3 separate regions of the Homo sapiens genome follow, and regions 1 and 2 are each linked to region 3. The links come from fine-mapping of genetic effects on gene expression. A gene starts in region 3. Each other region holds a variant in brackets. All regions are shown on one strand. Distances are from middle to middle. Region 1 overlaps METTL9 (methyltransferase 9, His-X-His N1(pi)-histidine). Region 2 overlaps EEF2K (eukaryotic elongation factor 2 kinase). Region 3 holds the start of IGSF6 (immunoglobulin superfamily member 6).

Evidence for each region. PIP is the estimated chance that this variant, and not a neighbour inherited with it, causes the effect. A credible set is the group of variants that fine-mapping cannot tell apart.
Region 1: its variant is the best candidate, but not a certain one, in a credible set for the expression of IGSF6 in whole blood (TOPMed, PIP 0.68).
Region 2: its variant is the best candidate, but not a certain one, in a credible set for the expression of IGSF6 in esophagus muscle (GTEx, PIP 0.61).

The regions. Positions count from the first base shown.
Region 1 is chr16:21,607,489-21,610,253 of GRCh38, forward strand. All of the region lies in intron 1 of METTL9 (methyltransferase 9, His-X-His N1(pi)-histidine), which reads left to right. Among named protein-coding and RNA genes, the nearest start is that of METTL9, 9.3 kb to the left of the region's middle. The variant A/G (reference allele first, on the strand shown) is at 1,738.
Region 2 is chr16:22,227,596-22,230,360 of GRCh38, forward strand. All of the region lies in intron 2 of EEF2K (eukaryotic elongation factor 2 kinase), which reads left to right. Among named protein-coding and RNA genes, the nearest start is that of EEF2K, 23 kb to the left of the region's middle. The variant T/G (reference allele first, on the strand shown) is at 1,535.
Region 3 is chr16:21,651,272-21,654,036 of GRCh38, forward strand. It overlaps IGSF6 (immunoglobulin superfamily member 6), which reads right to left and starts at 1,337. Exons shown (of 6, transcript NM_005849.4): 1 at 1,261-1,337. The coding sequence starts at 1,327. All of the region lies in intron 4 of METTL9 (methyltransferase 9, His-X-His N1(pi)-histidine), which reads left to right.

The DNA.
Region 1 (2,765 bases), 44 kb before region 3:
AATTATTAGTATCTTTGCAGTTGTGTTGCCAGTAGGGAGAATATTGCTATTTACTGTAATTTTTAGATATCACATCCTGTTCTGTACTTGGCATCAGCAGATGACTGAATGGAATCATTCTCATTTGATTAGAATTTGTCATTTAAAAGATTCCCTTGTTTATTTAGATGAAACAACATTTGAGTGAGCTTTAAAGGCAGATGCTAATAAGATGCTTTTTCAGACATGGTAGGCTCCAGCCAAGGAGTCCAGCCTCACAGTAGAGTGGGCGTGTAGTCCTGTCAGTGTGTGAATTTAACGGGCATAGTACTTTGTTCTTGCCTGTGCACCTTTGTCTCTGTAGTCTTTAAGGAGCACACATTTAAAGAACTCACCTGCGGCTGGGCGCAGCGGCTCACGCCTGTAATCCTAGCACTTTGCGAGGCCGAGGCAGGCAGATCACCTGAGGTCAGGAGATCAAGACCAGCCTGGCCAACATGGTGAAACCCCATCTCTACTAAAAATACAAAAATTAGCCAGGCGGGGTGGTAGGTGCCTGTAATCCCAGCTGCTTGGGAGGCTCAGGCGAGAGAATCACTTGAACCCGGCAGGCAGAGGTTGCAGAGAGCCTAGATCACACCACTGCACTCCATCCTGGGCGACAGAGCAAGACTCCGTCTCAAAAAAAACAAAGAACTCACCTGCTTGAAAGTACACAGGAGCATACAGACAAGCCACCCAGTGCTGCGAGCTTAGCGTAGCTTTTTATCTAAGCTGGTTGTTTGGAGAGAGGTGAAACCAGGAGTCCTGCCCATTGGGTTAAAGGGGTTCCTGCAGATTTTTTCTCTCCTTGGTCCTTGGTATTTCACCTTAAGGGCAAGGTGACTGCTCCTTTAAGGCTCTGAAGCTCCTCGCCAAGATCATAGTCACATTACTTGTTTCCCTTGGTTTCTGATTTTATTTTCACTCTGGAATGTAAGTTCTCTGAGGCCAGCGAGTCCATCTTTTAATTCAGTCAGCTGGAGTCCCTAGACCATAGTTAGGCTGGGATAGTGGGAAACACTACTGGAGAGTCAGTACAGTGACATTTTGTGGGTAAGGCCATGTATGGGTTCTCAAGCAGTGGCAGTTTTGCCTCCCAGGGGACATTTGGCAATGCCTGGGACATTTTGGGCTGTCATTTGGGGTAGTGCCACTGTAACCTGATGGATAGGCACTAGGAATGCTGCTGAACATCCTACAATGTGCAGGTCAGCCCCTATAACAAAGGATCATTTAGCTCCAAATGTCAGTAGTGTGAAGGCTGAGAAACCCTGGCTTACAGGACTTTAGTTACTATCTAGACCAGATTATCTTTTCTCTACACACATGTAGTTCAGTTTAATTGGCAGGATAGTCCTGCTTTCTTTTCTTTAGCAGACACACTGGGTAGAGTTAAGTGAAGAGAAGCTTCTTTGAAAGAAACGCTTATAAAACAACACGTACCTGGAGCAGGAGCTTGAATCAGCTGGAGCTGCTTAGGGACCCTATGCTTCCCATTTATTCAGAAATTGCAAGGTGGTAAATGAAATGTAAAGCACATGGCTTGGTGCCTGGTGCATGATAGGTGCTCAGTTGGTGTCTTCCTTCATTGCTTGCTTCCTTGCTTGTGGTAATGCAATTTTGTGGTGAGTGGGTAGCTGTAACCACTGGTTGCAAAATTAGGTTTAAGCAAGGCCTTGCAGAGTTTGAGAAATTGACAGAAACCCCATGGCAGCG[A/G]TCTCTGTGGTTATCCTTATGTTTCCTCTAGGATTTTGTTAGAAACTCCAAATTCTGTTTAGGCTGCCTGTTGATGAACATTTATTGTTTGTCTGTATCTGTGCCAGGCACTGAAGCCATTCATTTTCTCTGCCTTTATGAAGCTCTCAGTCTACCTGGGAAGATAGGCACTGAACATGCGATTGTCTACAATTATTCAATTCAGAGATTGTAAATATTACCAAAGGGACAAATGGGATGTATGAAAGGGTATTAGAACAGGGGGCCTAGCCTAGCCTTTCGTAGGTATATTTTCCTTTGAAAAGAAAATATACCTAGGAAATATTTAGGCTGAAGTTGAACGAACCAGGTGAAGAGAGAGTGGGTTAGGTGGTGGGAAATGTTGGGGGGCAGAGCAAATACCATGTGAGACAGCCACGGGAAAGGGGCCTTCCAGAAAAAAGAAGGAAGGGGTGGAGCTGTGTGATGGAGTGAGGGTCCAGGGGTCATGGGTTGGTAGGGAATGTCATGAGGTGAGGCTGGAGACACAGAATGAACAAAAATCGTGCAGGGCCTTATAAGCCATATTAAGCATTTTGGATGTTATCCTAAGATTCCTGTTAAGCAGGGTAGTGATGTGATCAGATTTGCATTTAAAATTTGCATTTTAAGAGGTTTTCTAGGTTACTTATGTTTTCAGGCCACTTTTAATTTCTGGAAGATCTAACTGCCACCTGCATATTTAGGGAGGGGTGTGTGTGTGTGTTTAAAAAACAGCTTTATTGGGATATAATTCACATACCATGAAATTTATCCTTTTAAAGAGTACAATTCATTGATTTTTAGTATAATCACAGAATTATGCAGCCATCACCAGTATTAATTTTGGAACATTTCATCACCCCAAAAAGAAACCTCATGTCCATTAGCAGCCACTCCACATTGTCCCAGCTCCCCAGCCCCTGGCAGCCACAATCTACTATCTACTTTCTATCTCTGGATTTGCATATTCAAGACATTTCACGTAAGTGGAATTACACAGTATGTGG
Region 2 (2,765 bases), 580 kb after region 3:
AATTTGCATTTATTTATTACATATTATATATCTGTCACCAGGCTATGCACTGAGTACAGACAGGCAAACAGCAATTGTTTACAGACTTAACAATCTCCCCATTTATCAGCAGAGACATTCAAGCGGAGAAACAAATATAATAACTATTAGTTACTTTGATAGAAACTTGTTTTAGGGACACTGAAAAAAATGATCTCATTTAACATTTATAGCTATCTTGGCTGGGCACAGTGGCTCAAGCCTGTAATCCCAGCGCTTTGGGAGGCCAAGATGGTAGGATCGCTTTAGGCCAAGAGTTTGAGACCAGCCTGGTCAACATAGGAACACCCCATCTTTATTAAAGAAAAAAAAAAAGAAAAAATGCTTACAGCCATCCTATGTAGTTACAGCTATGAAGGATAAACCAAATTCTTTTTTTTTTTTTTTTTTTTTTTTTGAGATGGAGTCTCACTCTGTCGCCCAGGCTGGAGTGCAGTGGCACAATCTCAGCTCACTGCAACCTCCACCTCCCAGGTTCAAGCAAGACTAAATTCTTATGAATCATTACTTTTGAAACAATACCTAGTATTGTGTGTCACACATTATAGGTGCTTAATAAGTGTTATTTCCCTCTCTGTTGCCACATTCCAGGAGTGTGGTCCTAATAATTTGTCACTGATTATGAGAATTAATATATTTTTTAAAACCTTTCCACAAATTAATTACCTTTTCCCAAATTTGTTTACTGATTAAAAGCTCATACTGTGGGCTGGGCGCGACGGCTCACACCCGTAATCCCAGCACTTTGGGAGGCTGAGGCGGACAGATCACAAGGTCAGGATTTCGAGACCAGCCTGGCCAACATAGTGAAACCCATCTCTACTAAAAATACAAAAATTAGCCGGGCATGGTGTTACAATAAAACTCCAGCCAAGGAAAAGACAAAGAGACCTTTGGAAACCAAAGAGAACTTTATTTAATTCAGGTACCCGGGCCGACAGCAGGCCCACGCCTAAAATGGCTGCCGACTGGGACACAGAAAGCAGGCTTGCTTATATGTCGTTTGAGGAGGGAAAACAAGGCAGGATACAGGTTTCAGACAAAGACAGTAAATTATTTAACACGTGACAATTCTGAGAAAACATATAATTTAGTTATCTTGACCAGTCAACTTTGAAGCTGGACAGCTCGAGCTTCGGGGTAAGGGAAAACAGGAATTACAGAAATACGCGGGGGTCTGGAGGCAGGCAATAAGCTTGGAAGATTGAGATAAGCTCATAGCTGCAACTTGTTAGCAATGCTGGGAGGGGCTGCTTAAATTTCTTAGCCTATGTATAACTTCTAAATAACCTATACTTAATGTTAACTATTACTTATGTTTATTATTTTTAACTTTATTATTACTTATTTTATTTTCCTTCCACAATGGTGGTGCATGCCTGTAGTCCCAGCTTCTCAGGAGGCTGAGGCAGAAGAATCCCTTGAACCCAGGAGGCAGAGGTTGTGGTGAGCCGAGATCGCACCACTGCACTCCAGCCTGGGCAACAGAGGAGAC[T/G]CCATCTCAAAAACAAAAAACAAAAAACAAAAACCTCATACTGTGGAAGGTTTCCGTCTCAAGTGTCTTCTACATTTGTCCAATTTTGTGTTGAATATTTTGAAAGCACCCCTGCATATGCGTGTATGTGGGTACAGAGACATATGTGCAATGTGATCCTTCATGTTGGTTATCGTAAAAAAACAAACAAAAAAACACTTTTTAGAGTTGGACATCCTTCTCTGGACTGAGGAAAAGTGTACTTATTTTGGTAGGGATTTGTGTTCATACCATAGCAAAGCTGGTATAAAGAAGACGGGGAGAAGCCGGGCGCGGTGGCTCACGCCTGTAATCCCAGCACGGGCAGGCAGATCACCTGAGGTCAGGAGTTTGAGACCAGCCTGGCCAACATGGCGAAACCCCGTCTCTACGAAAACACAAAAATTAGCCGGGCGTGTTGGTGCCACCTGTGGTCCCAGCTACTCGGGAGGCTGAAGCATGAGAATCACTTGAACCCAGGAGGCGGAGGTTGCAGTGAGCCAAGATTGTGCCACTGCACTCCAGCCTGGGTGACAGAGCGAGACTCCATCTCAAAAAAAGAAGAGGGGGAAAGGCGAACATTATTGGACTTTTTATAATAACTGGTGGGGGTAAAAAATCAAAAGTGCAATACCATTACCCTTTCTTAATCAAATCCTCACAAACAGTTAAGTATCAGTACTGTAAACAAAATGCCTATTACCACTTGGGGATTTGAAATTAAAAATAATCTTCCATAACTTCTGAATTAATCTGTTTTTAGAAAATTAATAATTTTAGTTCTTGGAGATAGTTGGGTAATGTTTTCCCTTTAGGCCTAGAGTTCTAGCTGGAGTTACTCTGGGGCAGGCAGCTCCAGAAATAGCCCCGTGGGTCTCCTCTGGGGTCCGGGGGCCCCTGAAGGGGCAGGTTTCCACTGATCCTGTTTCCTGTCCTAAGGCAGCTTTGAAATGAACACCCACCCCGAGGAGGACAGCTCAAGTGTCCGCAAGAGGGGCTGATTTAAATTACAGGCATTGGTTCTCACAGAATGCTGTGTTTACGTTAGAACAAAGTGATGTTTCTTTCCTTCTTTTTTTTTTTCGAGACAGGGTCTCACTCTGTCGCCCAGGCTGGAGGGCAGTGGTGTGATCCTGGCTCACTGCAACCTCCACTTCCTAGGTTCAAGTGATTCTTGTGCCTCAGCCTCCCAAGTAGCTGGAACCACAGGTGC
Region 3 (2,765 bases):
CATTTAAACAAAGCTGTCTCTCTATCTAGTAAGTAAGAAGTAAGTAAATGTCTTGCTCTGTTGCCCAGGCTGGAGTGCAGTGGCACAATCACAGCTCCCTATAGCCTGAAAGTCCTGGGCTCAAGTGATCCTCCTGCCTCAGCCTCCCAGGTGGGTGGGACTGCAGGTGCAGTGCAGGTGCCATCACGCCCAGCTATTTTTTTTTCTTGTGTAGAAATGGGGGTCTCATTATGTTGTTCATGCTGGTCTTGAACTCCTGAGCTCAAGTGATCCTCTCACCTTGGCCCCCAAAGTGCTGGGATTACAGGCATGAACCACCACGCCCAGCCCAAAGCTTTATTATATTAGATTTCAAATTTCTAACATATCAAAGTAGCGAAGTAGTACAGTCAACCCCCTGCCATCACATGGCTTCGACCCAATCTTGTTTCTTTTCTCCTCCCACCTACTCCCTCACTCCCATATTATTTTAGAGCAAATCCCAGCCATTTTATCTGCATCTTTCAGAATATATCTCTAAAAGACAGGAATTCTTCTTTAAAATAATGCTAATTAAAATAGTCTATGAAAGTAATATATACTTATTAGCAAAAAACAGGTTATTAAAAGTAGAAGCAAAAAGTCACCCATAGTCCTTTTGCCTGAAATAACTCCCATTAACATTTTGATATATTTCTTCACAGATGAGAAAAAATTAAGAACTTTCCCCCCTTCCCTGCCCTATAATCCAAATTGTGTGGGCAAATCTGAGATTACTAGATGTATTGGAAATCCTTTCTCTTTCATAGATAAAAAAACAGAAGTAGACAGAATTTTAAAAATAGATATACTATGGGATGGCTATTGGAGTCATGGCAGTTTTTTTTTTCTTAAATGAAAAGTACTTTTATAGAAATTGTTCTTTGAAAATATTCAGCAAATAATCATTTATTGCTTTCTATGTGCAGATCAAGTTTGTATGATAATTAAATTATTGATAACTTATACCTACGATTTTAAGAATATTTTCAACCCTTTGGTCAGATTGTCTCCAATTAGCATAATAGCAAAGAGACTTTTCAAGGTTAATATGAAACTTTTTCTCAGCTATTTTTTTATTGTCTATTTCTCAGGGGAAAAAGGAAACTTATCCTCTTAGGCAGTTTTCATAATGTTATACATTTAAAAATTAATCTGAAGGAGCTTAAAATATAAATGCATTAGGTGAAAAATAGCAGTTGATTTAAATAAAATGAAGGAGGAGAAGAAAAAGAACCTTACCGACACAAAATAGAATGAGATTGGTTTGCAGATGGCGAGCGATGTTGCTTCTGCTCGCAGTCCCCATTTCTGTGTATGCCGGGGCGGGTTGGGGTGTGTATTTGAAAGGAAAGTTGGCTTTCTTTTTTCAGAAGGGAAGAAGAGCTGAAGAGAGGAACCTCTTATGAAGGAACCATAATCAGGAACTTTTTGAAATTGTGCAAGGATGGCTTCACCATTTAACATTGAGATTTTGGCCTGGAGCACATTTAGAAATGTGCATATCTTTTTTTTTTCCATGGATTTTACAGTTGTCATAGGTGTTAGATGTTTCTGGGTGAGATTTTGATTTACACCTAGCACATATTTCCAGGAAGGAGTATTGTTTGACAAATAATTCGTACTTGGATTTTTCAGAACAGTTCAGTCACTGTCTAGGGTACCTGCTCTGGGTGCCACTCTGGGCCAGTAACTGCTGGGAACAAAGAACAGCAGAAGGAGAAGTGGCTTTGTGTAGAGATGAGAAAAGTTAGTAAACAACACATTCTAATGCAGCGAATAAATAAATTGTCTGTTATTAACTTTTTGTACTCCAGTTTTGAATCCAAAGACACCTGCCTTCCCCCCTTTTTTGACAGGGTCTCTATCACCCAGGCTGGAATGCAGTGGCAAGATTGCAGGTCATTGCAGCCTCAGCTTCCTGAGTAGCTGGGACTACAGGCATGCACCACCACCCCTGGCTAATTTTTTTTTTTTTTTGTAGATTCTGTGTTGTCTAGGCTAGTCCTGCCCTCAAGCGATCCCCCTGCCTTGGCCTCCCAAAGTGTTAGGATTACAGGTGTGAGCCACCATGCCTGGCCCAAAGACCCCCTTTTAATGTGTTGAGAAACAAATATGTGGGCCCTCTGTCCTCTGTGTCCTCTCCCCCAGCACTTAGTGGTGATTCAGTAAGGGTCTTCTTTGTAAAGCAGCAGAAACAGACTCAGGCTGACTTAAAAGGAAATTTATGCAAACATTTGAAGGTAGATCCTAGAGTCACTGGGAGGGCTAGTGAATCTTGTGTGGGGTCCACAGCCAGGAAGAATGCCTCAAATCACACCATAAACAGGTCTGAAGAGGATGCTACTGCCACTGCCAAACACTAGGTGCCATCAGCCCTGTTGTCAGCATCGCTCAACCACTGCCCCAGCCCCTTGGTCTCACTGCCATTGCTCCACCCCCAGAGAAGGAGAAGCTCACATCCCCACTACTCTGGGTCACTGGCTCTCCATTCCAGGGCATGGGCAAGTGTGCCTGGCTTAGGCTGCGTGCCAGTGCCTCAGCTGCACGGCAGGCCAGGAAAGCGGCTCCCAGGCCTTGTGTCTCTCCCAGACTCTGGGCAGGCAATTCCCCAGACATGGGAAGAGCGTCATCTGCACCACTGAAAATTATGAAAAATCTCCCCACCATGATATGATGTCTGTGCCCTTGGCATCTGCTCATGATATATTTTCTCATTAACAGAAAGTTATTCTCAGTCTGTTTTG